Regions from separate parts of the Homo sapiens genome. Here region 1 is linked to region 2. The links come from fine-mapping of genetic effects on gene expression. A gene starts in region 2. The other region holds a variant in brackets. All regions are shown on one strand. Distances are from middle to middle. Region 1 holds the start of ZNF316 (zinc finger protein 316). Region 2 holds the start of INTS15 (integrator complex subunit 15).

Region 1 (15,699 bases), 49 kb before region 2:
CCTGGCTCAGGGTGCTGCCTGGCCAGTGACATCCCCCGCCCCACCCAGGGGCCATGGGGTCCTAGGGCTTCCCTGGGAGGTGGGCTGGGCCCAGCATCCACCTTTGGAAAGACCCTGGGATTTGAAAAGCGCCCCGTCAGACAGCTAAGACCCTGGCAGCCATCACACCAGGCTGCCTCTTGGGGACAAAAGGTCCCGTCCTTACCCAAGGACACGAGAATCCCATAGTTCTCCTGCATGACTTCCTGGTAGAGGCCCCGCTGGTCTGCTTCCAGCCTTTCCCACTCCTCCAGGGAGAAGTACACAGCCACATCTTCAAACGTCACCAGCTCCTGGGGAAACAGAGCCTCAGGTGAGAGGCTGAGGGAGCCCTTTACAAAGAGCCACGGAAGATTGAGGCCACTGAGGCTCTCCAGCATGGGTGTCAGGGGACACAGATGCCCAGATGGCACTGAGGGCTTTCAGGCCTTGCCACAGCCCTGGAAAGCAAGGACCAGATCCCAGCCAGAGAATGGGGACTCAAGCTCAAAGACGGTGAACGACCCAGCTCGTAGGGCAGAGCTGTGGCTCAAGCAGAGGCCAGGAGACAGGGAGCCCCGCCCCCAGTCCCCCTCTTCATGCAGTCTGGCTCAAGCCAGTGCAATGGCCATGTCAGCCATGGAGGGCCCACACCCGAGTGGACAAGCAGCAGCAACTAAACCGAGCGTGGGCACTGGTGCCTGACCTGACTGGGCAGCAGGAACCCAGACCCTGGACATGTGACAGGCACTCCAGGTGAGGGGAGGGCCAGCCTTGGGGGAGAGCCAGGCCTCTGAAGTCGCTGTGCACAGTGCGGTTGAGTGGGTGGCAGCCAAAGCAATCAGGACAACCCAACGCCCAGGAAAGCAGGACCACACCCCCGGGCTTGGGGCTGGACACCCAGCCGCTTCCTGTGGCCACTCCCAGCTCAGGGCCTGGGCCTGGTCCGGGGACTCCAGTGCCATGGCCGCTGCCAACAGACGCCTCCAAACAGCAGGTGCCGAGGCCCCGGGGGAAACCCTGCCCAGGTTACCCAAGCCCCAAACGGAGAGGGCGGCTCACCTGACACCCAGCCGTCAGCAAATCATCCTCGTCCTCATCCTCCTCCTCCTCTTCCTCCTCCTCCAGGTCCTCATCCCTAGGAGTGGCTGGAGCCCGGGAGGCCTGCAGGCCTGTGGGGAGAGATCTCTTAGGGCCAGCTGCCCTGAGCCCCCAGCCTGCAGGGCCAGGAGCCCTGGCAACACCCTCATTGCAAAGCTGGGTTTCAGCTCCACCCTGTCGGCCCAAGAGCCCTCCTGGCTTGACCAGGTCCCTGGCCTGGCCCACCTCAGCCCCCTTCATCTCCTCCCCAAGGCTGGCTGCTTTTCTTACCCTTTTCCTGAAGAACTGGGGACTTGGCATCACCACCACGGCTAAGTCGCTCCTGGGTCCCCAACGCCGGACACTCCTCCTCTGCCAGCACCTCCTTCACATCCTCCTCCTCCACGTCCGCCTCCACCTCCACCTCGGCCACCGCCTCCACCTGCGCATCCTGCACTACCTCTGCCACACCCTCCTCCTCCTCCTCCACCACTATCTCCTCCTCCTCTTCTTCCACCTCCTGCACCTCTTCCCCCTTTTCCTCCTCCTCCTCCTCTTCTTCCTGGTCAGGGTCGCACTCTGACCCGTCCTCTGCCCGCTCCAGCTGGGCAGCTGGGGAGTCGGGAGTCGTGTGGAGCGCCGCCATCCTCCCTGGGAGCGAGCCTCCACGTGGCCTGAAATGCAGATGGACGCCAGTGACGGGCTGCTCTCAGCACACCACACGGTCCCCTCACAGGGTCTCCCGCAGCCTGGCGGGGGCGCAGGGAGCAGGATTTACTCCTCCTGTTATGTAGTTGAAGGCAATGGAGATGAGGGAGGACCGGGCCTTCCCACGATCTTACCCTGCACCATCAAGACATTCTGTACCCAGAAAGGCTGCCCCAATGGCCCCTCCGCGTGACCCCTGGGATGCCAGTCTCAGCTCCTTTTCACCAAGAACTACGTGCCTGGTGTGAACTGCTGCTCTTTCCTGGAGTAAATCAGGCATTTATCCCAGTCTTTATCCACAAGGAAGCATCACACAGCCCGAGGGTGGCCCATGTTTAGCCAGAAGGAAAAGCCCACCTGATACACAGGACAAAGAGACGCTTACCTGGTCCTCAACACACATGAACCAGGCCAGCAGGGAACGCCAAGAGGTCTCAGCACAGACAGGATGCAGGCACTTGCAAGGCACAACGGGGCTAGGAGGAGAGACAGGTGCCAGGAAGCCGGCAGGTCAGGCTTCTTCCTGCAGGACATGGGAGAGTGGGGGCTGTGAGCCAGCATCACCCTCATGTGCCCTCAGCCCTCGCTCTGTGAAAAGCGCAGTGCATGGTGGACACACGGCTCATCGCCAGACCATCAGGAGGACAGGAAATGCCTGTGACATTTCAAGTTTGGGGATCAGAGACTCTTGAGGGCTGACTTACCAAAGCCCTAGAGGCTACAGCGTCCTACTCTCTCACTGACATCAGTAACAGCTCAGCCCAGAAGCTCAGGGGAGAGGCAGCCACACTGACACAGGGTCCAGGGTCCAGGGCCATGGACACAGCAGGATGGGAGCTGCTGGCCCTGGGACCCCTCGCCCCTCCCCACTGCGTGTCCTTCACTAGCCCCTGTGGGGTCCCAAGGGCACGGCAGAGTCATAGCGTTGATGAGTCCATTTCTGTGGCTCCTTTCTGGGTATAAACCTGAGACCGGGCCCATTACCCAGGACACACACCATCAGTGTCTCTGGCCTGAACAGGGCCATTTCCAAAGCAAGCCAAGCCCAGAATCCAGGGGGAGAGGCCATGAGCCCCAGAAGCATCCTGGAATGTCAGGCCACTTGGCCACACAGAGCACTGGGCCCACCCTAGCTCATCCAGCTCGAGCAGTGGACAGTGTCTGCCACAGAACTCCTAAAACAAGACTGAGTGGCCTTCACGAGAACAGTCCAGACCACCACGCCTGGTGTTCTTACGGACACAGGAGAAAGCTGCTCCGTGATTAGCTCTCCCTCCATAACCCATCACTTCTCTATCAATTAGCGCAGCTGTGTTAGGCCATTTCTGCATTTCTGTGAAGGAATACCTGAGGCTGAGTAAGTGGCAAAGAAAAAAGGTTTCATTCACTCACAGTTCAACAGGCTGCACCAACATGGCGCCGGCATCTGTTTCTGGGGAGGGCCTCAGGAAGCTTCCACTCGTGGAGGGAGGCAAAGGGGCAGCAAGAGAGAGGGAGGAAGCCCCACTCTTTTAAAACAACCAGATCTCTTGTGAACTGAGAACTCCCTTATCACCAAGGGGACGGTGCTAGACCATTCATGAGGGATCCGCCTCCATGGGCCAATCCCCTCCCACCAGGCCCACCTCCAACACTGGAAATCACCTCCCAGCAGGCCCGCCTCCAGCACTGGAAATCATGCTTCAGCGTGAGACTGGAAGGGGACTGATGGAGCCTGGATGTTTGTCCCCGCCCAGATCTCACGCTGAACCGTAATCCCCAATGCTGGAGGCGGGGCCTGGTGGGAGGTGACTGGATCATGGGGGTGGGTCCCTCCTGAATCTTGGGCCATCCCCTTGGAGACAGTGAGTAATGAGTTCACAGGACATCTGGTCGTCTTTAAAAGTGTGTGGCGCCTCCCCACTCACTCTCTCTTGCTTGTTCCTGTTTTCGCCATGTGACATACCTACTCCCCCTCACCGTCCACCATGATTAAAGGCTTCCTGAGGCTCCCTAGAAGCCAGGCAGATGCCAGCACCATGCTTCCTGTACAGCCTGCAGAACCATGCGCCAGTCTCACCTCTTCTTTATAAATGACCCAGTCTCAGGTATTTCTTTACAGCAATGCGAGAACAGCCTGACACCTGGACAAACACCCAAACCATAGCAGCCGCGCGTACTCATTTCCTGAACTGCTTTGAGCAGTTGCTTTAAAATCCACACTTTAATAGCCAGGAAGCTCTGAGCATTCACACAGGCTCACCCAAGTCAAAGGCTGGGACACACAGGCATCCAGAAGCCACCTCTGTCCCGAAGGTCACACGTGCCCCCTGACTGGCTCCAGCCCCCTTTCTAGTTTCAGAATCACTAACCCCCAAAGACTCAAGTCACAGAACTACGCCTGGGAGCGCCACCCCAACCTCCAGCCTCTCCCAGAAGCCAACCTTCTCAGTGTCCACAGCTCTTTGGCGTGTGAAGATGCCCAAAGTGTCGAAATCCACGTGCTGCGTGTTATGCTAGCCACCTCCAGGAGGACACGGCCCTGCCCAGCACTCAGGGCGCTGGGTACACGCAGCAACGGTTTCCCAACTGCCACCCACTTGAGGCCCAGAGGAGGGCTTTTCTCTTTCAAGCCTCAGGCCGCAGATTCAGGCTGGGCCTAGGTGCCATGCCAAGCTCAGTAGAGCTGTCTCCTGCCTGGCCACCACCTGAAGCAGCAACTTTAAACTCCCAGAGCCAGGCCGCCATATATGAGGACACAACAGAAGAACACTTCACAGCTTTGGAATAAAGTGGCTGCATGTTCATCTCATCTCAGGCCGTGTGTGTGTTATTCCCCATCCCCAGAACTCTCTTCCCCTTTTCCTGGGTGGTCTTCTGAGGCAGCCCCCTGGGCCCCAGTGGGTGACACAGTTCCCTGTAATTCTTCCCTCACAGCACTCACCACATCTTAAAAATACACTTATGAGACTGTCTTATCATCTCTCTCCCTGAGTACAGCCAGCTCCTGGGCGGCAGAAGCTCCCTTTGCTCATGTCTGAATACCCCTCACACCAGCACTTAAGAAGCATTCAAATACTTACTAAAAGAATGTCTAAAGTCGCCAGCCAATGTGATGGACACAGGATTTTTCAAACTCAGCATTTTGGCCCTACTGTCCTGTTCCAGAACAGACTGACCACTGCTGGGGGTAGGGGGTTGGGGGGACCCTTGGAATTGGAACTCACCCCAGAAGCAGTGGAGAGTCTCTGCCTCCAAAGACGACACTGAGTTCTTTCTCCCAAGAAGTCCACCCACGGATGACCAGAGAAGGTGGAGGACCAGCTCCTACAGAGGTCAGAAGCACAGCCAGACATCGTCCCCAACCCAAGATTCAGAACATAATGGTTTGAAAAACGGACCTCAGCAGTCCGGGCAGAGTTTAGATTCCAGCAACTCCCCCTGGGTTATCTCTGCCTCCCCCAGGCCTGCACTCTTGCCCTCTTCTTGCCAGCCTGCCAGTCCACTGTAAACACTGCTCACTTCTCCCTCGGCATCCAACTCTGGGTCAGAGGCCACAGGGGGTCTCATCAGCATCAATCCCAAACCAGAGGCCACAGGGAGCTTCACCAACGTCATCCCAAACCCTCATTTCTCAAACTCCCCACCTCAGGTGATCCACCCGCCTCGACCTCACAAAGTGCTGGGATTACAGGCGTGAGCCACCTCACCCGGCCCCAAACCCTCATTTCTACTAGGGCCCTGCACTCTAGGATACGGTGCTGCAGCCAACATTTAGAATGGGAGGTGACAAGGTATCTCCCAAGAGGAGAAGGGAGCGAGGCAAGGGCAGGAAGAAGAGGCAAAGCTTGAAAGTTGATAGAAACTCCTCACAAAAGCTCCAAAGCCAGGGAAACCCAACTCAGAGAGCGGGAGATGTGGGGGTGTGCTTGTGTCTAGCCCCCTTCATTCCCTCTGGGTGGCCCCCGCTGCCCTCAGAGCCCTTCGGGTCTTCATGCCCTCCTGAAGGACTTCCTTCCCCGACCACCACAGTCCTCACTGTCTGTCCTCGGATTCTGGATCCCCCTACTTTCCTGGGTTTGCTCCTGGTGCAGGTTATTTCCACGGGGGCCATCTCAGGTTCCCCAGGGTAGCCCCCTCACCACCCCACCCGGCCCCCAGACCTGCCCACACTTGTTGAACCAAACCAAGCACCGAGGTCTCCCCACACAAGCAGAGCTGGGGGCCTGATCCTCCTGGTACCTGCACTTCCTCTTGCCCATCGGGTCCTCGACCAAAGCCCAGCCCCTTTCCTACCTCTGCTGCCACGCGGGACAGCCCAGACCCCATCCAATCCCAGGGATGGGTGTCCCTACCTACCTGCCGGCAGCAGAAGACAGCCGAGCAGCCCACCGGGGCTCCTTCTGCAGATGAGGGAAAGCCCGGATAAGGCCCCCAAGGTCACAAAGCGGGCTCCTGGGGCGACGGGCCGAGCGCCTCCCGCCCCCCAGGGGGCGTCCGGAGCCGCCTCCTCCTGCAGAGACCTAGACGATGACAGCCCCTCCTGGATGGGTGTGTCCTGGGGGCGGCCGCGGCCCAGCCCCTGCCGCTGCGGCCGAGAAGGCGTGGGCGGGCACCCCGAGGTGTCACGCGTGGCCTCCCGGGCCTGCCCCCTCCGCCTCCTGCCCGGACCGGCCCCGGGGGTCGGCAACGCGCAGGCCCGGACGGGGGTCCGGGAGGCGGGGGCGCTGCCGCGGAAGTCCCTACCCGCGTTCCGCTCCGACTCTGCAGGCCCCGGCCCCGCCGCCTCCCCGCGGCCTCCCCGCGCCGGGCGTCGAGGGCCAGCCCGGCCCCGCCGCCGCCGCCGCCCCCGAGCGCAAGCCCGGCCCGCCCGCACCTGCCGCCCGCGCCGCCGCCCACCGGCCCCGCGAGACCCACTCACCGCGCGGGCCGGGCTGGCCGAGCCACGGGCCGGACACCGGGGCCGGGGCCTGCGGGCCGGCGGCGGACCCCGCGCTACACAAAGTGACGGCCCGGGAGCTGCGCGACGGCGGCGCGTGGGCACCGGAAGTACCGCCGGCCGGCCCCGCCCCGCCCGCGCCCGCGGGGGGAGGAACTTCCGGTCACGCGGGGGCAGCGGCGCGGAGCGGGGAAGCGCGGGTTGCGGGGGTTTGCCCAGCTGGGCCTCGGGCCGGGGCGAGGACGGGGCATGCGGGGAGGGGACGGGAGCGCCCTCGACACTCGTGGGGCGCCCACAACCTCGCCCCGCTCCTGGACACCCTGGCCAGGTCTCGGAGGTGACCCCGAGGTCCCGCCGCTGCGACCACCGCCTTCCCCGAACCCCAGCCCGGCCTCGTTCATCGGGGCGCCCGCTGAGGACCAGGCCCCGCGCTGGGCCCCCTCCGCCAGTCCACGGAGCCTGCCCGGGACCCCAGGATGGTGGAGGGAGGAGGCGACCCCTGTGGTGGGGAGGGGGCCAGGTGTCCACGCCTCCACCAGATCCCCGGGCCCGCGCGGGGTGAACGTCTTGTGGGTGGGGAGGGAGGAGGGACGGGCGGGGTGAACGTCTTATGGGTGGACTGTGGCGGTTGAGTGCAGGAGGAGACTGGGGTTGTGGAGCCCGCACTTGGAGGGACATGGGGTCACGGGCAGGGAAGCGATGTCCAGGCAGAGGGCATGGCCAGTGTGGGGGCAGAAGTGACAGGCGACCCCAGGAACCCAGGGAGGGGTCGGTGAGCTCAGCGGCCACCCCCAGACCCCCACCCACAAGCCTGTCTGCACCTGCTCCCAAGAGGTGCAGCTGGGGTGTCAGGATGAGCTCTGGCATTGGTGGAGTCCAGGGTCTGTCTTCCGCCTGGAATGGTGTGGCCTGGGCCCCTTCCCCAGCTCCCAGCCCGCCTGCACCACTGTTCTTGGTGCTTTTCTGTGGGGACCCCAGGCCTGACTGGGCAAGAGATAGAGGAGGACTCGGCCAGGCACGGTGTCTGTAATCCTAGCACTTTGGGAGGTCTTGGCGGGCGGATCACGAGGTCAGGAGTTCGAGACTAGCTTGGCTAACATGGTGGGTGAAACCCCATCTCTACTAAAAATACAAAAATTAGCCGGCCGTGGTAGCGCACCCCTGTAGTCCCAGCTGCTTGGGAGGCTGAGGCAGGAGAATCGTTTGAAGCCGGGAGGCAGAGGGTGCAGTGAGCCGAGATCACACCACTGCACGCCAGCCTGGGCGACAAGGTGAGACTCTGTCTCAAAATAATAATAAGATAGAGGAGGACTCAAACCTTAGTCCCACAGAGGGGTGCAGCCCCAACCCCTTGAATCAGACCCTCACAGTGATGTCGCTTGGCTCTTGGTGTCTTAAAATGTCTTAAAGTTAATAACATTTTAAAATAAGGAGTCCCATTCTTGTTTAAAAAATAAAATTGAAAAATCAGGTTCTAATGCGGGGTCTCACACCTATAAATTAAGCACTCTGGGGGGCCGAGGCGGGTCACACCTGTAATCCCAGCACTTTGGGAAAACAAGGTGGGAGGATTGCTTGAGCCCAGGAGGTTGAGGCTGCAGTGAGCTATGATAGCACCACTCCACTCCAGCCTGGGCAACAGATTGAAACCCTGTCTCTAATAATAAATAAAATCTGAAAAATCAGAAGTTCTGGCAACACAAGGCCCCTGGTTTGCAGGGCACCAGCCAGTAGGGCCTGAGAAGTAACCAGCTTCTGTGGGTGGGACTGAGCGTGGCCATGGTCCTCAGTGCCCACCACTCCCTGTCCCTTTCCTCCAGGCCCACATCTGAATGACACTGCCTGACTCTCCTGTGGGTATCTTTTAGAACCCCTAATCCCTAGATTAGACCCTTCCCCACCCTACCTGATCCGTCAGGTTCAGTAGGAAGGTGCAATTGCCCCCAGGCACTCCCAGGAAGGGCTCTGACTGTAGGACAATTAACAATTGACCAAAAGCAGTGTCACCAGGTGATGTGGTTTGGCTGTGTCCCCACTGAAATCTCGTCTTGAATTGTAGTTCTCATGATCCCCACATGTTGTGGAAGGGACCCGGTGGGAGGTAATTAAATCATGGGGGCAGTTCGCCTCATGCTGTTCTCATGTTAGTGAGTTCTCATGAGATCTGATGGTTTTGTAAGGGGCTTTTCCCCTTTGCTCCAC[A/T]CTTCTCCTTCCTGCCATCATGTGAAGAAGGAAGTGTTTGCTTCCCCTTCCACCATGATTGTAAATTTCCTGAGGCCTCCCCAGTCATGCGGAACTGTGAGTCAGTTTTTGGTGGTGGTGGTGGTTGGTGGTGGTTGGTGGTGGTGGTGGTGGTTTGTTTTGTTTTTGTTTTTTTCTTGAGATGGAGTCTCGCACTCTGTTGCCCAAGCTGGAGTGCAGTGGCACAATCTCTGCTCACTGCAACGTCAACCTCCCAGGTTCAAGTGATTCTCCTGCCTCAGCCTCCCAAGTAGCTGGGATTACAGGTGTGCACTACCACGCCTGGCTAATTTTTGTATTTTTAGTTGAGATGGGGTTTCACCGTGTTGGTCAGGCTGGTCTCGAACTCCTGACCTCGTGATCCGCCCGCCTCGGCCTCCCAAAGTGCTGGGATTACAGGCAAGAGCCACTGTGAGTTAAACCTCTTTCCTTTTATAAGTTTCCCGGTCTTGGGCAGTTCTTTACAGCAGCATGAAAATGGACTAATACACCAGGTAAAGGGAAGCAGCTGGAATGTGAAGGCACCAGGCCTTTGCCACCCTTAGCCCTGCAGGAGCAGGAAAGGGCAGGATGTTGTCAAGCCTGGAGGGAGGTGGAGATATAAAGATGGGGACACTGTGGGCACTGTGATTATAGAGGGACAGTGTGGCAAGGAGAGAGTACCCCAACCCTGCCCTCCTGCACCCTGTCACTTCCCAGTGCTGCCCGTTGCCCAAAACCACCTGTAATGTGGACAGCAAGGGACCCCAGAAGAGGAGTGTGTATAATAGAGTCAGCAGCTCCATCCCGGCCTTAGATCCCTCCACCCTGTCAGGCAGGGACCCCGAATCACCCCAGCATCTCCTCAGATCTCCTCTTGGCCTGTCCTCACCTGATACCTAATCCAAGACTCAATTTCTTCCTCTCCCTCGTCCACAGATAATTTTCCTTTTCCTTTTCCTTTTCCTTTCCTTTCTTTCCTTCTTTCTTTCCCTTCCTTCCTTTCTTCCTTCCCTTTTCTTCCTTTCCCTTTCCTTTTTAGGAAAGGAAAGGGCGTGAGCCACCTCACCGGGCCCTACGAGTGAGTTTTGCTTCTTGCTCCAACAGCACTGCTGAGGGGCTGAGGAGACGGAGAGGAGACGAAGGAAGCTGGTGGGACTTATGTGTCCTTGGCCTTAGGGAGATGCTAGACCAGGCCTGGGCCACCTGAGGATGCCTCTGACCTGGGGACAATTGGTTGTCATAAACTGTAGTTTAGTTGGACCTTCTTGTCACTCACTACTGAACTCAGTCTTGATAGATTTCCCTAGACTCATTTGAAGAAGGAAGTAATTAAAAAGCAGGCCAGGATTGGCCCATGCCTGTAGTCCCAGCACTTTGGAAGGCTGAGGCAGGAGGAAAGCTTAAGGCCAGGAGTTTGAGAGCAGCCTGGGCAACATAGCAAGACCCTGTCGCTACACAACATTTTTAAAAATTAGCTGGGTGCAGTGGCTCACGCCTGGAATCCCAGCACTTTGGGAGGCCGAAGCAGGAAGATAGCTTGAGCCCAGGAGTTCAAGACCAGCCTGGGCAACATAGTGAAACCTTGACTCTACTAAAAATTTAAAAATTAGTTGGGTGTGGTGGTGCATGCCTGTAGTCCCAGCTACTCAGGAGGCTGTGGTGAGAGGATTGCTTGAGCCCAAGAGGTTGAGGCTGCAATGAACTATGTTCACACCACTGCACTCCAGCCTGGGTGACAGAGGAAAACTCTGTCTCAAAAATAAAATAAAATAGGCCAGGCACGGTGGCTCATGCCTGTAATCCCAGCACTTTGGGAGGCTGAGGCAGATGGATCACGAGATCAGGAGATCGAGACCATCCTGGCTAACACGGTGAAAACCCGTCTGTACTGAAAATACAAAAAATTAGCCGGGCATGGTGGTGGGCACCTGGAGTCCCAGCTACTGGGGAGGCTGAGGCAGGAGAATGGCGTGAACCTGGGAGGCGGAGCTTGCAGTGAGCCGAGATTGTGCCATTGCACTCCAGCCTGGGCGACACAGCAAAATTCTGTCTCAAAAAAATAATAATAAAATAAAATAAAATAGCTGGGTGCAGTGGCTCACACCTGTAATCCCAGCACTTTGGGAGGCCGAGGCAGGTGGATCACCTAAGGTCAGGAGTTCAAGTCCAGCCTAGCTAACATGGTGAAACCCTGTTGCTACTAAAAATACAAAAATTAGGGGCCAGGCACAGTGGCTCACACCTGTAATCCCAGCACTTGGGGAGGCCAAGGTGGGCGGATCATCTGAGGTCAGGATTTCAAGACCAGCCTGGCCAACATGGAGAAACCCTGTCTCTACTAAAAATATAAAATTAGCCAGGTGTGGTGGCACACACCTGTAATCCCAGCTACTCGGGAGGCTGAGGCAGGAGAATCGCTTGAACCCGGGAGGCAGAGGTTGCAGTGAGCCGAGATTGTGTCATTACACTCCAGCCTGAGTGACAGAGTGAGACTCCATCTCAAAAATTAAATAATGTGGGGCGCAGTAGCTCATGCCTGTAATCCCAGCACTTTGGGAGGCCAAGGCCGGTGGATCACCTGAGGTCAGGAGTTGAAAACCAGCCTGACCAACATGGTGAAACCCCGTCTCTACTAAAAAAAAAATACAAAAATTTAGCTGGGCGTGGTGGTGGGTGCCTGTAATCCCAGCTACTCAGGAGACTGAGGCAGGAGAATCGCTTGAACCCGGGAGGCGGAGGTTGCAGTGAGCCGAGATCGCGCCCCTGCACTCCAGTATGGGCGACAGAGTGAGACTCCGTCTCAAAAAAAAAAAAAAGTAAATCATACCCTTTTTGCACTAGTACAATTCCATGTCAGTCATCTATCTATGAGCAGTTGGTGGGGTTGGGGCTGGGGGAATATCCAAGCATACTCATGAAACAGTTCCTGGGGTGTCATCTGCCTGGCTCCTGCCCATCCTCCACGGTGGGTGCTGGCAGTGAGGAGGGTGCCAGCCCACCCAGTGATTGGCATGAAGCTTGTTCTATGCTTCAGCCTTCGTGTGTCTCACTGGCAGGGACACAGGGTATGTGAAAAGTTAACAGGCATCTGGGGCATTTGGAATTCTGTGAGGCCGAGAGCATCTCCGTTCAAGTACATGGGCCTGCCCCGTATCTGCACAGACCCACCTGCAGGGACTGAACATTGACTGGGCAGAGCTCCCCTTCACTCGGCTCTCGGGACTTCCTCAGCTGTCTCTTCCTGCAGGAAGCCCTCCTGGGCTCCTCCTGAGCTCTCACACCAGGGGCTGGCAGGGAGCCTGGCACAGAAGGATGCTGATGGATGCCCCCACGGAGCCTCTGTGTGCCTGGAGTGGGCTGAAGGCAGTAGTGCTGCTATTAAAACCATAGGTGAGGCTGGGAGCGGTGACTCATGTTTCGTGTTAGTCGGTTCTCCTATTGCTATAAAGAACTGCCAGAGACTAGGTAATTTAAGAAAAGAGGTTTCACTGGCTCATGTCTCTGCAGCCTATACAGAAAGCATGGCTGGGGAGGCCTCAGGAAACGTACAGTCATGGCAAAAGGTGAAGGGGGAGCCAGCACTTCAAATGGTGGCAGCAGGAGGAATGAGAGAGAAGGGAGGGGTGCCACACACTTGTAAACAACTAGATCTCACAAGAACTCACTGTCGTGGTGACAGCTCCAGGGGGAATGGTATCAAACCATGAGAAATTGCCCCCATAATCCAATCATCTCCCACCAGGCCCCACCTCTAACACTGGGGATTACAGTTGAACTTGAGAGGCCAGGAATGGTGGCTCAGGCCTGTAATCTCGGTACTTTGGGAGGCCAAAGTGGGTGGATCACCTGAGGTCAGGAGTTTGAGTCCAGCCTGGCGAACCTGGTGAAACCCCGTCTCTACTAAAAATACAAAAATTAGCTAGGAGTGGTGGCGAGTGCCTATAATCCCCGCTACTCAGGAGGCTGAGGCAGGAGAATCTCTTGAACCCAGGAGGTGGAGGTTGCAGTGAGCTGAGATCACACCATTGCACTCCAGCCTGGGTGACAGAGGGAGACTCAGTCTCCAAAAATAAATAAATAACAATTGAACATGAGATTTGGGTGGGGACACAGATCCAAACCATATTATTCCTGTAATCCCAGCACTTTGGGAAGCCAAGGTGGGAGGATCGATCACTTGAGCCCAGGAGTTCGAGAACAGCCTGAGCAACATAGTGAGACTTCGTCTCTACAAAAAGTAGAAAAAATTAGCCAGGTATGGTGGTGCGAGCCTGTAGTTCCAGCTACTCGGGAGGGTGAGCCTGCAGTGAGCTATGATGGTGCCACTGCACTCTAGCCTGAGCGACAGACTGAGACCCTGTCTCAAGAAAAAAAAGAAAAAGAAAACAAAGCTGGACAGTAGTTAAAACGGTAAAAAACAGATTTTATTCAGGAACTATTGCAATAGGGAAAAGAGACCTCAGTATAGAACTGGGCTCAATTCTGAATACAGCAGGGACAAGTGGAGACTTCCAGCCTAGGAGCAGGTTGGAGGGGAGTGGGTGGGTGGAAAAATACGAAGGAGTGGGAGGTTGTGGTTGAACTGACTCCCAGGATCCTGGCTGAAGGCAGGCAAGAGTGATCAGAGGGCACCTGGCAGGTGGTGGGAGAGGAGGGATTTGATCAGATACCAAGGGTGGAGATTCTGGCTAAACTGACTTGACAGGATTTTTGCTACAGCTGGGCAATGCAGAGACGGGCACAGACACTCAAAGGTCAAGGCTGAGTGGAGAAGAGGCTCCGGGGAGGCTGAAGGCCGCTCAAGGAAATAGAAAGACTGTGTTTCCAGCCCTGCATGCCTCCTCATCGGCAGTTGAGACCCCACTGCTGCCTGCTCCTTCCCATTCCATTGCGGGGACCTGGACTTGATCTAGCCCTGTCTGGTGGACACACTTTTGTAGGTGCCAGGAGGGAGGAATCTGCTCCTCCTTTCTGCCCCCGACAGCCCCCAGCCCCAGTGGCCACTCACTCCCAGCATGCCTTGCAGCTGCCTGAGTGGGAGACTGTGGTGGACTCGGAGCTGGGGCAGGGAGGACAAGCTTCTTCTGGAAGGGCAATGGGCAGAGGGTGACCTGGTCTTTCACGGTGGTGTCAAGGACCATAGAGCCAGGCCACATTCTCCCCACGTTAACTTTCCCAAAGGGATCAGTTTTCTGCTGAACAATCATTCCCATTTACTGGGAATTATTGGGCAGTGCCTCATGCCTGTAATCCCAGCACTTTGTGGGGGGCTGAGGCGAGAGGATTGATTGAGCCCAGGAGTTTGAGACCAGTCTGGGCAACATAGCAAGACCTCGCCTCTACAAAAAATTTAAAAATTAGAGGTCGGGGCCGGGCGTGGTGGCTCACGCCTGTAATCCCAGCACTTTGGGAGGCCAAGGTGGGCAGATCACGAGGTCAGGAGATCGAGACCATCCTGGCTAACACGGTGAAACCCCGTCTCTACTAAAAATACAAAAAATTAGCTGGGCATGGTGGCGGGCGCCTGTAGTCCCAGCTACTCGGGAGGCTGAGGCAGGAGAATGGCGTGAACCTGGGAGGCGGAGCTTGCAGTGAGCCGAGATTGCGCCACTGTACTCCAGCCTGGGTGACAGAGTGAGACTCCGTCTCAAAAAAAAAAAAAAAAAAAAAAAAATTAGAGGTCGGGCTCAGTGGCTCACGCCTGTAATCTCAGTACTTTGGGAGGCTGAAGCAGGCGGATCACCTGAGGTCGGGAGTTCAAGACCAGCCTGACCAACATGGAGAAACCCCGTCTCTACTAAAAATGCAAAATGAGCCGGGATGAGGTGGCAGGAGCCTTTAATCCCAGCTACTCGGGAGGCTGAGGCAGGAGAGTCACTTGAACCCAGGAGAGGGAGGTTGCGGTGAGCTGAGATCGCACCATTGCACTCCAGCCTGGGCAACAAGAGCAAAACTGTGTCTCAAAAAAAGCAAATGAATAAAATAAAAATAAAAATAAAAATAAAAATAAATTAGCTGGGCATGGTGGTGCACACCTGTAGTCCCAGCTACTCAGGAGGCAGAGACAGGAAGATCACTTGAGCTTGAGCCCAAGTTCAAGGCTGCAGTGAGCTATGACTGCACCACTGCATTCCAGCCTGGGCGACAGAGTCAGACCCTGTCTCAAAAAAAAAAAAAGAAAAAATTCCAGTTACCAGAGCTTAACTCTGTCACCTTGAAGTCTTGTCATCTCTCACCTGGTTCCCTTAAACAGCCTTCGGATGGCTTCCTGCTGTCCATCGGGACCACATGCCACACCCCATCCACCTTGGCAAGTCATAACCTTCCCCAGCACCTGACGCCTTTCATAGCCACCATGGACCCCCCACCAGGGCAAGAAATTCCAGCCACAGGACCACTCAGACCCCTGGATTTGCCCCCAGCTCCCACCTCAGGCTCTTGCTCAAGACAAATGTCCCCTACCACCACTGCATCCCCCTCTCTGGTCACCTTTCAGGCTGGGCTGAAATACCACCTGTCCCCATGCAGGCCGGGGAACTCCTCTTTCTGTCATCCCTTGATTATTGGTGTGTGACTCTCAGGCTGCACCTCATGGTTGGGACTTGTGGGGGGGCCTTGCCCTACTCCAGGCCTGATGCCATGAGCTGAAGGCCCTGGATGCCATGATAGCCAGCGGCACGGTGCAGGAGCTCAAGCTGAGGCTAAAGTGAGGGGCTGCCTTTCTGGTGCTCCAGCCCACCTCTGTTAGCCAC
Region 2 (13,239 bases):
TGCAGTGAGCCCCGTGGTCACACCACTGCACTCCAGCATGAGCAACAGAGCAAGACCGTCTCAAAAAAAAAAAAAAAAACAGAAAAACACCACCTGACTGGGTGTGGTGGCTCATCCCTGTAATCCCAGCATTTTGGGAGGCCGAGGCAGGCGGATCACAAGGTCAGGAGATCGAGACCATCCTGGCTAACACAGTGAAACCCCGTCTCTACTAAAAATACAAAAAAATTGGCCGGCACCACTGATGGTGGGCGCCTGTAGTCCCAGCTACTCGAGAGGCTGAGGCAGGAGACTAGGGTGAACCTGGGAGGCAGAGCTTGCAGTGAGCCGAGATCGCGCCACTGCACTCCAGCTTGGGCGACAGAGAAAGACTCTGCCTCAAAAAAAAAAAAAAAAAAACCACCGCACAGACCAAATTTGTCCCACCACCCGTTTTTGTTAACAAAATTTCACTGAGACGTGATCGCGCTTATTCGTTTGCTTACTGCCTAAAGCTGTTCTTGCACTAGAAGGAAAGAGGTGAGTAGCTGTGAAAGAGACTACAGGACCCGCAAAGCCGAAGACAGTTCACTATCTCGCCCTCTACATAAAACATCTGCCAGCTCTTGCTTTACAGTTTACTTAGGAAACATCATTTCTGCCTTCAGGTGAGGAAATGACAACTTCTGTACCCTACAGGATCCCAGGTGAGATGCCACAGGTAAAAATTAACAGCTGCTATCACATTGAAGAGATTCAGGAGAGTCAGTGAACTGCCACATGATGAAAATGTGTGTTTACAGCAGTACTTGCTAAATTTCTCTTAAAATCTTATTCTTAAGCTGGGCGCAGTGGCTCATGCTTATAATCCCGGCACTTTGGGAGGCTGAGGCAGGAGGATCGCTTGACCTCAGGAGTTCGTGACCAGTCTGGGCAACATGGTGAAACCCTGTCTCTACAAAAAAATACAAAAACTAACCAGGCATGGTGGTGTGCGCCTGTGGTCCCAGCTACTTGGAGGGCTGAGGTAGGAGGATCACTTGAGCCCAGGAGGCAAAGGCTGTAGTGAGCTAAGATTGCACCACTGCACTCCACCCTGGGTGACAGACTGAAACCCTGTCAGAAAAAAAAAAAGAAAAAGAAAAAAAAACACACCCTAATTTAAAAAAAAAGTTTTTTTTTTGAGACTGAGTCTCACTCTGTAACCCAGGCTGGAGTGCAGTGACACAATCTCGGCTCACGGCAACCTCCGCCTCCCATATTCACACGATTCTCCTGCCTCAGCCTCCCAAGTAGCTGGGACCACAGGCGCGTGCTACCACGCCTGGCTAATTTCTGTATTTTCAGTAGAGACAGGGTTTCACCATGTTGGCCAGGCTGGTCTCAAACTCCTGACCTCAAGTGATCTGCCCCCCTTCGGCCTCCCAAAGTGCTGGGATTACAGGAGTGAACCACTAAGCATGGCCAAAAAAAATAATTTAAACAAACAAACAAAAAACACTCCAGAAATCTAATTAAATGAGAATTCCGAACAGCAAAATCATCTTCAGAGACTCTCAGGGGAGACTCTTTTTTTTTTGAGACGGAGTCTTGCTCTGTCACCCAGGCTGGAGTGCAATGGCACCATCTCAGCTCACTGCAACCTCTGCCTCCCGGGTTCATGTGATTCTCCTGCCTCAGCCTCCTGAGTAGCTGGGGTTACAGGTATGCAACACCATGCCCGGCTAATTTTGTATTTTTAGTAGAGACATGATTTCGCCATGTTGGTCAGGCTGGTCTTGAACCCCTGACCTCAAGTGATCCGCCCACCTCAGCTTCCCAAAGTGCTGGGATTACAGGCATGAGCCACCGCACCCGGCCGAGGGTCTCTCTTGAGCAGTACCTGAAGCCAGGAGGCAGCACACTCCAACACCGGGATTCGACACACAGCCACCGCCATGGAGACCAGTTTTCCCAACAAGCTCATCCGGCTGTCATCGGCTTTGTTCCCTTGAGGGCTGAAAAGGGATGAAAAAATAATCTGCCGAACAGAGTCCTTGGTTTGCTCCTGGAAATAATTGCACATGATTTCAAGAAGTTGAAGCTCCTGAAGGGAATTCAGTCTCTGCAAAAGAAATCCCGGAAAAGCGTTAAGAAATGTGGCTGTAACGTACTTATTAACTCATACATTAAGAAAACAGGAAATAGACTGGGCGCGGTGGCTCATGCCTGTAATCCCAGCACTTTGGGAGGCCAAGGTGGGCGAATCACGAGGTCAAGAGTTCGAGACCAGCCTGGCCAACATGGTGAAACCCCATCTCTACTAAAAATACAACAATTAGCCGGCATGGTGGCGCGCACCTGTAATCCCAGCTACTCGGGAGGCTTAGGCAGGAATCTCGCTTGAACCTGGGAGGCGGAGGTTGCAGTGAGCCGAGATCGCACCACTGCACTCCAGCCTGGTGACAGAGTGAGACTCCGTCTCAAAAAAAAAAAAAAAAAGAAAAACAGGAAATAACAGTATTTTCCCGTAGAACTTTTCGCCCTTCGTAAAGTTCCCGTAGAACTTTTCGCCCTTCGTAAAGCTCAGGTCTCAGGGAGATCTTTGCTGTTGATCTTAGAAAAAAGTCATATAGGCCAGGCGTTGTGGCTCACGCCTGTAATTCCAACACTTTGGAGGCCAAGGAGAGAGAATCTTGAGCCCAGGAGTTTGAGACCAGCCTGGGTAACACAGGGAGGCCCCATCTCTACAAAACATTCAAAAATTAGCTGGGCATGGTGGTGCACGCCTGGAGTCCCAGCTACTCAGAAGGATGAGGCGGGAGGATTACTTGAGCCCAGGAGTTCAAGGTTGTAGTGAGCTGTGATTGCACCACTGCACTCCTGCCTGGGCAACGTAGTGAAACCTTGTCTCGAAAAAAAAAAAGGCAGAGAAAGAAAAAAAAAAGAAAAAGATGTAAGAAGAAAGCCATACAGATCATTATACATCCTCCTGGAGGGTTCAGGATGAGCCTTTCGGTAACAGCCCAACAGACCTCTAGGGAGCGGGCAGTCGCCAGTTTGTCCCTTTAACACCAAGACTCGGCTGTCACACGCCCCGCAGACTGGACAGGCAGCTGAGCAACACTGCAGGACCCGGAGAAGGGTTTGGGGGCTGCTGCAGGAGCGAGGCCGAGCGCGAGCGCGGGGATCCTGGACATGGGGCGCCCGCGGCTTGACACAGCCCTGCATCGCTGGGGAAAAGGCCCGCCCGCCCGCCTGCGGGGCCCGGGAACCCGACCGTCTCAGGCCGCACCTTGGGCTGCGCGCTGCGCTCCTTGGGCACCTGGAACACGAACTCCTCCAGCAGCTCCACGGGGCCCTTGTCCACGATGGGCAGCGGCGCGCTCTGCAGCTGGCTGCTGAAGTAGATGTCCAGGTGGTACAACACCTCCTTGGCGGCGCTCAGCGCATCGCGGCGCAGCAGCGAGTGGCGGATGTCGCTCATGGTGCGGCCGCCGCGGCCCCCGCGCCGAGCGCGTCTCACTTCCGCCCGGGGCCCGGGACTGCGCCGCTACCCGTGGAAACAAAGAGGCGCGACCCGGGCCTGGGCTGCGGCACCCGCCCGCTTGCCCGCCTGCCGCCGCCTGCTCCCTGCCTGCTCAGGGGGCCATCGCTGCTGCCGCCGGCCAGCAGGCGCCCGAAGGTCCGACTGCGGCGCCGCCAGGAGCCGCCGGGAGCTGCCGCCGCGCAGCCGAACAGCGGCCGAATGCCGGGCACGGAGACGGCGGCCCGCAGGGGCCAAGCGCAGGCCGCGGCCTAGGCGCGCTCTCCGGAGGGCGCCCCCTGGCGGCGCGAGCGGTGAGGGGCGCGCCGCGGTCCCAGGTGGACCCCGCCCCCGGAGCCCGCCCAACCGCCGGTGCAGGCCCGCTCCGTCCTTGCCCAGGCTCCCTCGCGGGCTGTGCGTCGCGTTCAGAGCTGCCGCTGGTTGATTTCACGGTGCTTTCCACCAGCAAGAATTGGGGGTGGTGCCGGGCTTTGGCTTCGGCCAGCGGACTTGGGTTCCCTGGCCGCCCCAGCTACCCGTCTTCACGTTTCCATCTGTTCTCAGCTGGGGGGTACGGGGGAAGATGGCTGGAAGGCCCCCTGCCCCTGACTCCCACTTCCCAGCCTCTCTGACTGCGGGCTCCTTGGCCTAGCAAGGTGCAGAACACCTGCCACCTGCACCTGAGAGCCCTCCCACTCCAAAGACCTTCCGCACCAAGACCTCGTTTCTGGCAGTCATGTCTCCTCTGAAATAGGTGGCAGTTCACTTTCACAATTTTTAAACTGGTGAGAAAGGACTTGAATGTGGCTAGAGGAGGGCAGGCCGGAGGCCACACATGCAGGAAGGTGCCTGATGTACAAGCCCATACTGGCCGGAAGGCAGGCCTGGGTGAGGACACTCTGTTGTTGAGATGAAAATCCCCTGGGGGAGAGAGGAGAATAGAGGGGGCATAAAAGAGAGCACAGCCAGGCACAACGCGCAGGCGCTGAGTCAATGAGACCCTCCTGCACATCACACAGGTCAGAGACACGGCCGCAAGCCCCTCCTGTCCACATGCCCAGAGTTTAGAGACACCAAGGTCTCAGCATCACCTAGAACCTCTGAGAAGTCATCTCTTGATCCCCTTGACACCAGGACTTCAGAGATGCCCGGTTTCAAAAGAAGACAAGCAAGGGGGATTCCTCAGTCAACACCCATTTTCCCCTCTCTCCCTTGCCCACCGAAAGTGATTTATAAGCACAGCAGAAATCAAAACAAACAAGCCATGCTTGGAAAACGAGGATCCACATGTGTAAATAAACGGGAACTACAGCTCAAAGGCAGTCATACACTTGTCATTCTTGTTTCTTCCTCTCATGACATGGAAAGGCAGGTAGAAAGATCTCTTGAAGGTTGCTCCGAAGCCCATGGGAGTGAATGTTCCGGTGGACTTGGGGCTCTGCTGACGGAGGCCAGGCCACAAGGGGACAACGCTGGCACCAGGCCCAGTCACCTCTGTACCACTCGTTAGTAGTCTGGTTGGTGGCCGCCAGATACAGGACAAACAACAGGTAGCCACCCAGGAGGAAGCTCAGAACCACGACAAAGCCCAGCATGAAGACAATCCGTGGAAAAGTCAGGAACAGGTACTAGGAGCAGAGAAAAGGTAGTGCTTTAGGCAGCTGGACTGTGACATCCATGAGAGTGAACACTGGCCAACCCTGGGCCTGCCACAGCCACCAGCGCTGCTTCCTCAGCCCACCTACTTGTGTCCAGATGTGACAAACTGAACATAAACAGCACTGAGAAGCAGCCCAGAATAATCCCAGTACATACAAGAGTTTCCTGTGGGATGAATGAAGTGTTCACACTGAAGGAAAAGGGAAAGTTTACTTAGGAAATGTGCTATTCCAGTTAGCTATTTATAAAATAAATGCAGACTTCATTCATCAATATAAAATCCAGATGGACAAAAGAGATCAATGTCTTTCTTAAAACAATACAACCCCAAAAATAGATGTACAAGGATATTCGTTGTATCATTGATTTTATCAGCCCCTCTTCCGAAGTTTTTTTCCTTTTCTTAATAAATAGAAACAGGGGCCGGGCGCAATGGCTCACGCCTATAATCCCAGCATTTTGGGAGGCCGAGGCGGGCAGATCACTTGAGGTCAGGAGTTTGACACCAGCCTGGCCAACATGGTGAAACCCTTCTCTACTAAAAATACAAAAGTTAGCCGGGTGTGGTGGCACAAGCCTGTAATCCCAGCTACTCAAGAGGCTGAGGCAGAAGAATTGCTTCAACCCGGGCGGTGAAGGTTACAGTGAGCTGAGATTGTGCAACTGCACTCCAGCCTAGGCGACAGAGCAAGACTCCATCTAAAAATAAATAAATAAATAAATAAATCAATAGAAACAGGGTCTTGCTATGTTGCCCAGGCTGCTTTCAAACTCCTGGCCTTGAGTGATCCTCCTGCCTTGACCTCCCAAATTGTTGGGATTACAGGCGTGAGCCACTGTGCCTGGCCAAGAAACAAGTTAAATGTCCATCCGTCAGGAAGGGTAAACTCTGGGATGGTCACACAATGGGAAAACGAGGAGCCATGAAAAATGATGTCAATTTCTATGTACTGATTGTGAAAAGACTTAATATATTGACTAATGAGAAAGGCAAGATGTAAGGATTACACTGTCATCTTGTTTGGGTAAAAACAAAACTGACTCCGTAAATGGTATATGACCATAGGAACTGCGCTGCTTAAAGTTTTGTAAGTTATTTTTGTAATAAGCAAAATGAAGAATTTAGAAAGTTTAATATTTTTGAAAGTCACAAGAAAAGAGAACATTTAACAAAACTCCTGATGGAGGAGACTTTCTTGTTGAAGTTACAAAGAAAAGAAATTTGATGAGAAAGAATGTCTGAACTTTTCTATACCAAAAAACCCCAAAAAACCCAAAACCCCATTCCCAAGATCCAAAAGATCCACAAACAAAAAAACAGTATAACAAAAGATTAACCGTCATTATTATATAAAGACCTCAAATCAAAAGTGATTCTGGGCCAGTCATGGTGGCTCACACCTGTAATCCCAGCACTTTGGGAGGCCAAGGTGGGAGCATTTGAGCCCAGGAGGTCCAGGTCATAGTGAGCTGTGATGGTACCACTGCACTCCAGCCTAGGTGACAGAGTGAGACTCTGTCTCAAAAAAAAAAAAAAGTTACCATATGACCCAGCAGTGCCACTTCTAGGTGGAATGTACCCAAGAGAAATATAAACATAAAACATAAAAACATAAACATAAAACATGTTTTATAAACATAAAAACCTATGTCCACACAAAAAACTTGTACATGAATGTTCACAGCAGTATTACTCAAAAATAGCCAAAAGTGAAAACACCAAAATGTCCATCAACTGATGAACAAATAATTAAAATTCAGTCTATCCATACAGCGGAATACTATTCAGCCATAAAAAAGAATGAAGTAAGGCCGGGCACGGGGTTTCATGCCTGTAATCCCAGCACTTTGGGAGGCCGAGGCGGGTGGATCACTTGAGGTCAGGAGTTCAAGACCAGCCTGGCCAACATGGTAAAACCCCTTCTCTGCTAAAATTACAAAAATTAGCCAGGCGTGGTGGCTCATGCCTGTAATCCCAGCTACACGGGAGACTGAGGCAGGAGAATTGCTTGAACCTGAGAGGCAGAGGTTGCAGTGAGCCAAGATCACACCATTGCACTCCAGCCTGGGCAACAAGAGCGAGACTCCATCCCAAATAAACAAAAGGAATGAAGTAGATTCGTGCTACATGAATTAACCCTGAAAACCTTGTGCCACAAGAAAGAAGCCAGTGGAAAAGACCATATATTGCATGATTCCATTTATATGAAGTGTCCAGAAAAGGCCTATCCCGAAAGACAGAAAGTAGATTAGTGATTACCTGGGTCTGGGGGAGGAGGGAATGGGGAGTGTTTCCTTTTGGGGATGATGAAATGTTCTGAAATTAGATAGTAGTGAGGGCTGAACAAGTCTGTGAATATACTTATACCACTGTGGGATACTTTAAAGGGTGAATTTTATGATATGTGAATTTTTTTTTTTTTTGAGATGGAGTTTCTCTCTTTCGCTCTTGTTGCCCAGGCTGGAGTGCAATGGCACGATCTTGGCTCACTGCAACCTCCGCCTCCCAGGTTCAAGTGATTCTCCTGCCTCGGCCTCCCGAGTAGCTGGGACTACAGATGCTGGCCACCATGCCTGGCTAACTTTTTTGTATTTTTAGTAGAGACGAGGTTTTACCACATTGGCCAGGCTGGTCTTGAACTCCTGACCTCAGGTGATCCACCCACCTTGGCCTCCCAAAGTGCTGGGATTACAGCTGTGAGCCACCATGCCTGGCCCAATATGTGAATTTTATATCAGTTTAGAAAAAGGAAAAACTTCACGTTTGTTTGTTAGTTTCTGAGACAGGGTCTTGCTCTGTCACCCAGGCTGGAGTGCAGTGGTGCAATCTCAGCTCACTGCAACCTCTCCCTCCCGGGTTCAAGCAATTTTTGTGCCTCAGCCTCCCAAGTAGCTAGAACAATGGGCATGTGCCACCACACCCAGCTAATTTTTTTGTATTTTAGTAGAGATGGGGTTTCACCATGTTGCCCAGGCTGGTCTCAAGCTCCTGAGCTCAGGCAATCTGCTTGTCTTAGCTTCTCAAAGTGCTAGGATTACAGGCATGAGCCACTGCACCCGGCCCTGGCTCATTTTTGTATTTTTTGTAGAGACAAGGTCTCTACAGGAGACCAGTTATTCAATCATCAGTTGATGGACATTTGGGTGTTGCCCAGGCTGGTCCTGAACTCCTAGCCTCATGCGATCCTCCCACCTCGGCCTCCAAAAGTGCTGGGATTATAGGCGTGAGCCACCACACCCCACCTAACTTCATGCTTTTACTGGAAAAATAAATGTCTTTTTTGCGATTCTGAAACTTGAAGTCAGAAACCTACAGCATAATTACCTGAATAAGAAAGACCGTGTCCATAACATGGAGGTGTCCAAGGTCATCGATGTAAGTCTCCTGGTATAAATCTGACATCACCACCAAGTGGACCAGAAAAGTGGTGCTCACAATGGCGACGGTGGCAGCCGAGGCCGTCAAGGTCAAGACGTAGATGAGGAAGTACCTGATGTTCCAGGCCCCGATGCAGTTGTTCACCCAAACACAGTGATGGTCGAAACGGTGCACACACCAGTTACACACACCTGCACAGAAACAAGGGGGCACGTGCTGGGATGGTGCTTGACGAGACAAGGACACCGCACACCTGCTGAGATTTTCATAATCTGTCCACTGGATGTGTCATCAGAGGAAAATGGCAGCTGCTTAGTTCCAAACTAAGCTTTTGGAACTGTGGTGTCCAGTACAGGAGCAACCAGCCAAATGTGGGTATTGAGCACTTGCAATCTGACTACAAGACAAATCTGAGGTGGTGGCGGCATGCACCCATGGTCCCAGCTACTCAGAGGCTAGGCGGGAGGATCACTTGAGCACAGGAGGTCAACGCTGCAGTGAGCTATGATCACGTCACAGCACTCCAGCCTGGGTAATGGAGTGAGACCCTATCTCAAAAAACAAACCAAAAAACAGAGAGGACATTTTGTCAATACTGACAAATTTACAGTTGTCTTTTTACTACAATACTCCTTTGAATTCAGTGTGAATATGGAGGCAACACAAGAGTTAGTTAATTTACTTGACTTGGATAGACATAGTTTTAAAACTGGTGTTCCTGCTTTAAAGTCAATTCTTCTGATTAAGATGAATCATTATGTCAATGTAGACATGGATGGTGAAGGAAAATTATTTTTTTGGTACCGAATTCAGATATTGGAAAACTTTTAAGAATATCTGGATATAGCTTGCACATGTAAGCCTACTTTTTCAACTGTACATTTTATTAAATCTAAATACACAAGCATTTCCACATGAAAATTTAGTGTCCAAATCAAGATGTGCTATAAATGTAAGATACACACCAGATTTCAAAGGCTTAGTATGAAAAAAAGAATATAAACTATCTCATGAAGAATTTTTTACATTGATTACATGTTAAAATGATATTTTACATATGTAGGTTAAATAACATCCTGATTAAAACTGTCTCCAAGCACAGCCACATTTTGAAAAACATTTTTAAAAACTTTCTATTCATGGCCTTTTTTTTTTTTTCTGAGACAGGGTCTTGCTCTGTTGCTGAGGCTGGAGTGCAGTGGTTTAATCATAGCTTACTGCAGCCTCGATCTCCTGGGCTCAAGTGATCCTCCCGCCTCAGCCTCCTGAGTAGCCAGGACTACATCTTTTGTATTTTTTGTAGAGGTGGGGTTTCCCCATGGTGCCCAAGCTGGTCTTGAACTCCTAGGCTCAAGAGATCTGCCTGCCTCCCAAAGTACTGGAATTCCTGGCATGAACCGCTGCGCCCAGCCACATTCTATTTTTGTTAGACAGCACGGGTCTAGAATCTTGGGCCCTCCCCAGAAGACTAGGCTTTGTAGGACTGAAATCTGCAAACACAACATCCGCAGAAACAACTTGTGGGGAGCATGTCCTGCCACGTGGCGAGGGAAGGGCTGTTATGCCCAGAGATGAGGACTGTCTACTACACAGGAACACAAGACCTGACCCTCACTCATCTGAAAGAAACCATTATCTCAACTCTACAAGTAGTGGCCACACCATATCTGGGGGTGAACTGGCTCTGCTTTCGGATTCAGGAAACATTCCCTCACAGACGAAGCCCACACATGTGCTGTTGGAGGTGCCGCTGGAGTCACGAGAGCCACACTCACTGCAGTGCTTGGATCGAGCTGGTTTCCTTAAATCACAAGTAGAGCACCTCACGTTCTTTGGAAACATCACTTCATCAAATTCATAAACATGAAGAAATAATAATTCATTTGCTTTTGTTATAATGCCTGGGAAAAGTAAGGACATATGTCAGTTTCGTGCAATACTTTGGACTGGATAGTCACAAAACCCGTCCTGATAAAACACAACTGAAACTGCTATCTTTAATATCGTAAGTAATTCTTTTTTTTTTTTTGAGACAGTCTTACTTTGTCATCCAGGCTGGAATGCAGTGGCATGATCTTGGCTCACTGCAACCTCTGCCTCTCAGGTTCAGGTGATTCTCCCACGTAAGCCTCCTGAGTAGTAGCTGGGATTACAGGCGTGCTAATGCACGCGTGGCTAATTTTTGTATTTTTTTTGTTAATACAGATGGGGTTTCACCATTTTGGCCAGGCTGGTCTGGAACTCCGGACCTCAGGTGATCCTCCCACCTAGACCTCCCAAACAGGCTGAGATTGTGTGAGCCACCGCGCCCAGCCACGCAATTCATTTTTAATAATGGCTTTATTGAGATATAACACACAAACCTAATTCACTCATTTAAAGTGTACAATTCTGCCAGTGCGGTGGCTCACGCCTGTAGTCTCAGCACTTTGGGAGGCTGAGGTGGGTGGATCACGAGGTCAGGAGTTCGAGACCAGCCTGGACAACATGGCGAAACCCCATCTCTACTAAAAATACAAAAATCAGCTGGGTGTGGTGGCGCACGCCTGTAGTCCTAGCTACTCGGGAGTCTGAGGCAAGAGAATCCCTTGAACCCGGGAGGCGGAGGTTGCAGCGAGCTGAGATCGCCTCACTGCACTGCAGCCTGGGCGACAAAGCGTGACTCCGTCTTAAGAAACAAAAAAAGGAACAGTACCATACCGATCACATGCTCTATATATGACAAAACGAAGTGAAAGCATTAAAAAGATAAACTAAAAATTTTAAGTGGTTTTAAATAACCCATGGGTTGAAGAAGAAAAAAAAAATTAGAAAACACTCAAAACTGAAAGGTAATGAAAATGCTACACATCAAATCTTTTACAAAGTCCTCAGGGGGGGCCTCTCCTTGTTTGCAGCACTATTAGTAAGACAGTGGAGCTGTCACCATGCTGTATGCTAAGAGCCTCAACTTACCAGGATTGGTTCCACAAGTCAGGGTGAAAAAAAACAGGTTTACACCTAGCAGCAGATAGGGCAGAAGAAGGTAATGCAAGGACAACTCCAGCTCCTGACAGTAGCCAAATACTTCCCAGGTGTACTCAGTATAAACCATCCCTTGCAAGACCAGGTGCAGGACAATGAAGGTGTGGTTTCTGAAAGAAAACAGGCATGGCTTGTTCATGGGGGTTTCTTCTTGAAGAAATTGTATGATACTAAAGAAAGTAACCAACGGCCAACCACTTCCTTTGGGCTTGAGATAATAGTAAGAATTACATAGAAAACTATGTGAAACATTTTGCATGTATTTAACAGAAATTCACAATCTGTAAATATCGCTTTTTAAAAGTAGGCAAGTTAAAACCTCCATCTCAAAAGGCAGATTAACTACGAGTAGAGGCTCCCAACTCAGGACTCGTGATTCTTTCCGGCCTTCTTTCCCTCACCATGCTGGAAACCACAAGGAGCTTCCTGAAGCTAGAGGATCTCAACAATTAATAATCAAAGCAGAAAAGAGGAGAATATTTAAACTCTGAAAGAGAAATACCTCGTATGGAAAAGGTAATGAAGCAATCCATGCACGGCTCTCTGAAGACATTCTGGAATTATACAGGAAAATATCTGAAACAAAAGGAAAGAGAAAGACTCAATTTCATTTCTCACTTCCTCCACTCCCAAACAAATCAGACACTCCACATACAGCTGGCAATCTGGGTGATAGTAAGTTTTGTTTCCCTATATGGGTGAAGAAGTGATTTAGCAGAGAATAAAGAGGGGAATTCTTTCTACTGGTCTTTCCTTTCACGCCAACTCCATTTCTAGTCTGATTCTGACGAAGGCACCTGTCAGTGTCTTCAGGGAAAGAGAGGTGAGCAGAGGGGATGGGTCGGGGAATGTCAATGTGAAGGCCGCTCCTTCCCCAGCCTGGGTTCAATCCCAGGTTCCAGCATCCACACCCAGATCACTGGGCATTGGCCCAGGTCCCTCCCAACTCAATGCCTTCCCATAGGCTGCTTGCCCCGTTTTGCTCACTTTGATCCCTGAAGGAGGGGGGCCAGCCAATGCTGAGCTTTCTGCTGGCCCCCAGAGTCACCCATTAAGTGCCCCAGGCGGACCCTGCTCACATCCATGCCCAATCACAGGCATCTAATCCAGAGGAAAACAGCAACCTCTTCTCTCAAAGCACCACCGCAAGAGGACTTTCAGCAGGAACACAAAACCCACACAGACAGAGGCTGTGGAATATCCCACAACTGCCATCAACGAACTAAATCCATCAATGATGTTAAGTGGCATCTTTTTTGTTGTTGTTGAGACAGGGTCTCACTCTGTAGTCCAGGCTGGAGTGCAGTGGCGTGATCATAGCTCATGGCAACTTCAGACTCCTGGCTCAAGGGATCCTCCTGCCTCAGCTTCCTGAGTAGCGGGATTACAGGTGTGAGGCACTGCACCCGGCCTGGCATCTCTTTTTTGTCCTGTAGCAAAACCTGTGAGTCTCTTAGACTAACACAGTATTCAAATTCCAGTGCCATCCAAGGATCATCCTTACCTGTGCTCCTCCCCTGGCCAGGCCTTTCAAGCTATGGGTTTTCGAGCAGACGCAGATAAGAACAAGACCCATCAGCACCGAAGCCAGGTAGAACAAGAAGAGGACCAGAAAGTCCATCCTGCAGCTACAAAGGAACAGAAAGAGTGTGACTATCTGCTACTGAAAGGTTTCTTCCATGGCACACATTCT

Evidence for each region.
Region 1: its variant is fine-mapped to the expression of INTS15 in whole blood (TOPMed, PIP above 0.99). The same link has a PIP of 0.9 or more in neutrophils.

The regions. Positions count from the first base shown.
Region 1 is chr7:6,628,455-6,644,153 of GRCh38, reverse strand. ZNF316 (zinc finger protein 316) reads right to left here and starts at 6,836. Exons shown (of 9, transcript NM_001278559.2): 1 at 6,707-6,836; 2 at 6,145-6,308; 3 at 5,013-5,112; 4 at 2,192-2,329; 5 at 1,390-1,772; 6 at 1,081-1,190; 7 at 206-332. The coding sequence starts at 1,744. RefSeq lists enhancers at 3,442-3,736, 5,957-6,006 and silencers at 6,067-6,496, 6,737-7,156. The variant A/T (reference allele first, on the strand shown) is at 8,927.
Region 2 is chr7:6,580,490-6,593,728 of GRCh38, reverse strand. INTS15 (integrator complex subunit 15) reads right to left here and starts at 3,708. Exons shown (of 6, transcript NM_024067.4): 1 at 3,254-3,708; 2 at 1,862-2,083. The coding sequence starts at 3,445. ZDHHC4 (zDHHC palmitoyltransferase 4) reads right to left here. Exons shown (of 8, transcript NM_001134389.2): 3 at 13,051-13,174; 4 at 12,049-12,122; 5 at 11,478-11,656; 6 at 10,298-10,423; 7 at 8,469-8,713; 8 at 4,355-5,112. The coding sequence starts at 13,167. The coding sequence ends at 4,819. It overlaps LOC124901582 (a long non-coding RNA gene), which reads left to right and starts at 3,825. Exons shown (of 2, transcript XR_007060201.1): 1 at 3,825-4,269; 2 at 4,504-4,806. RefSeq lists a silencer at 3,384-3,883 and enhancers at 3,954-4,103, 3,728-4,566.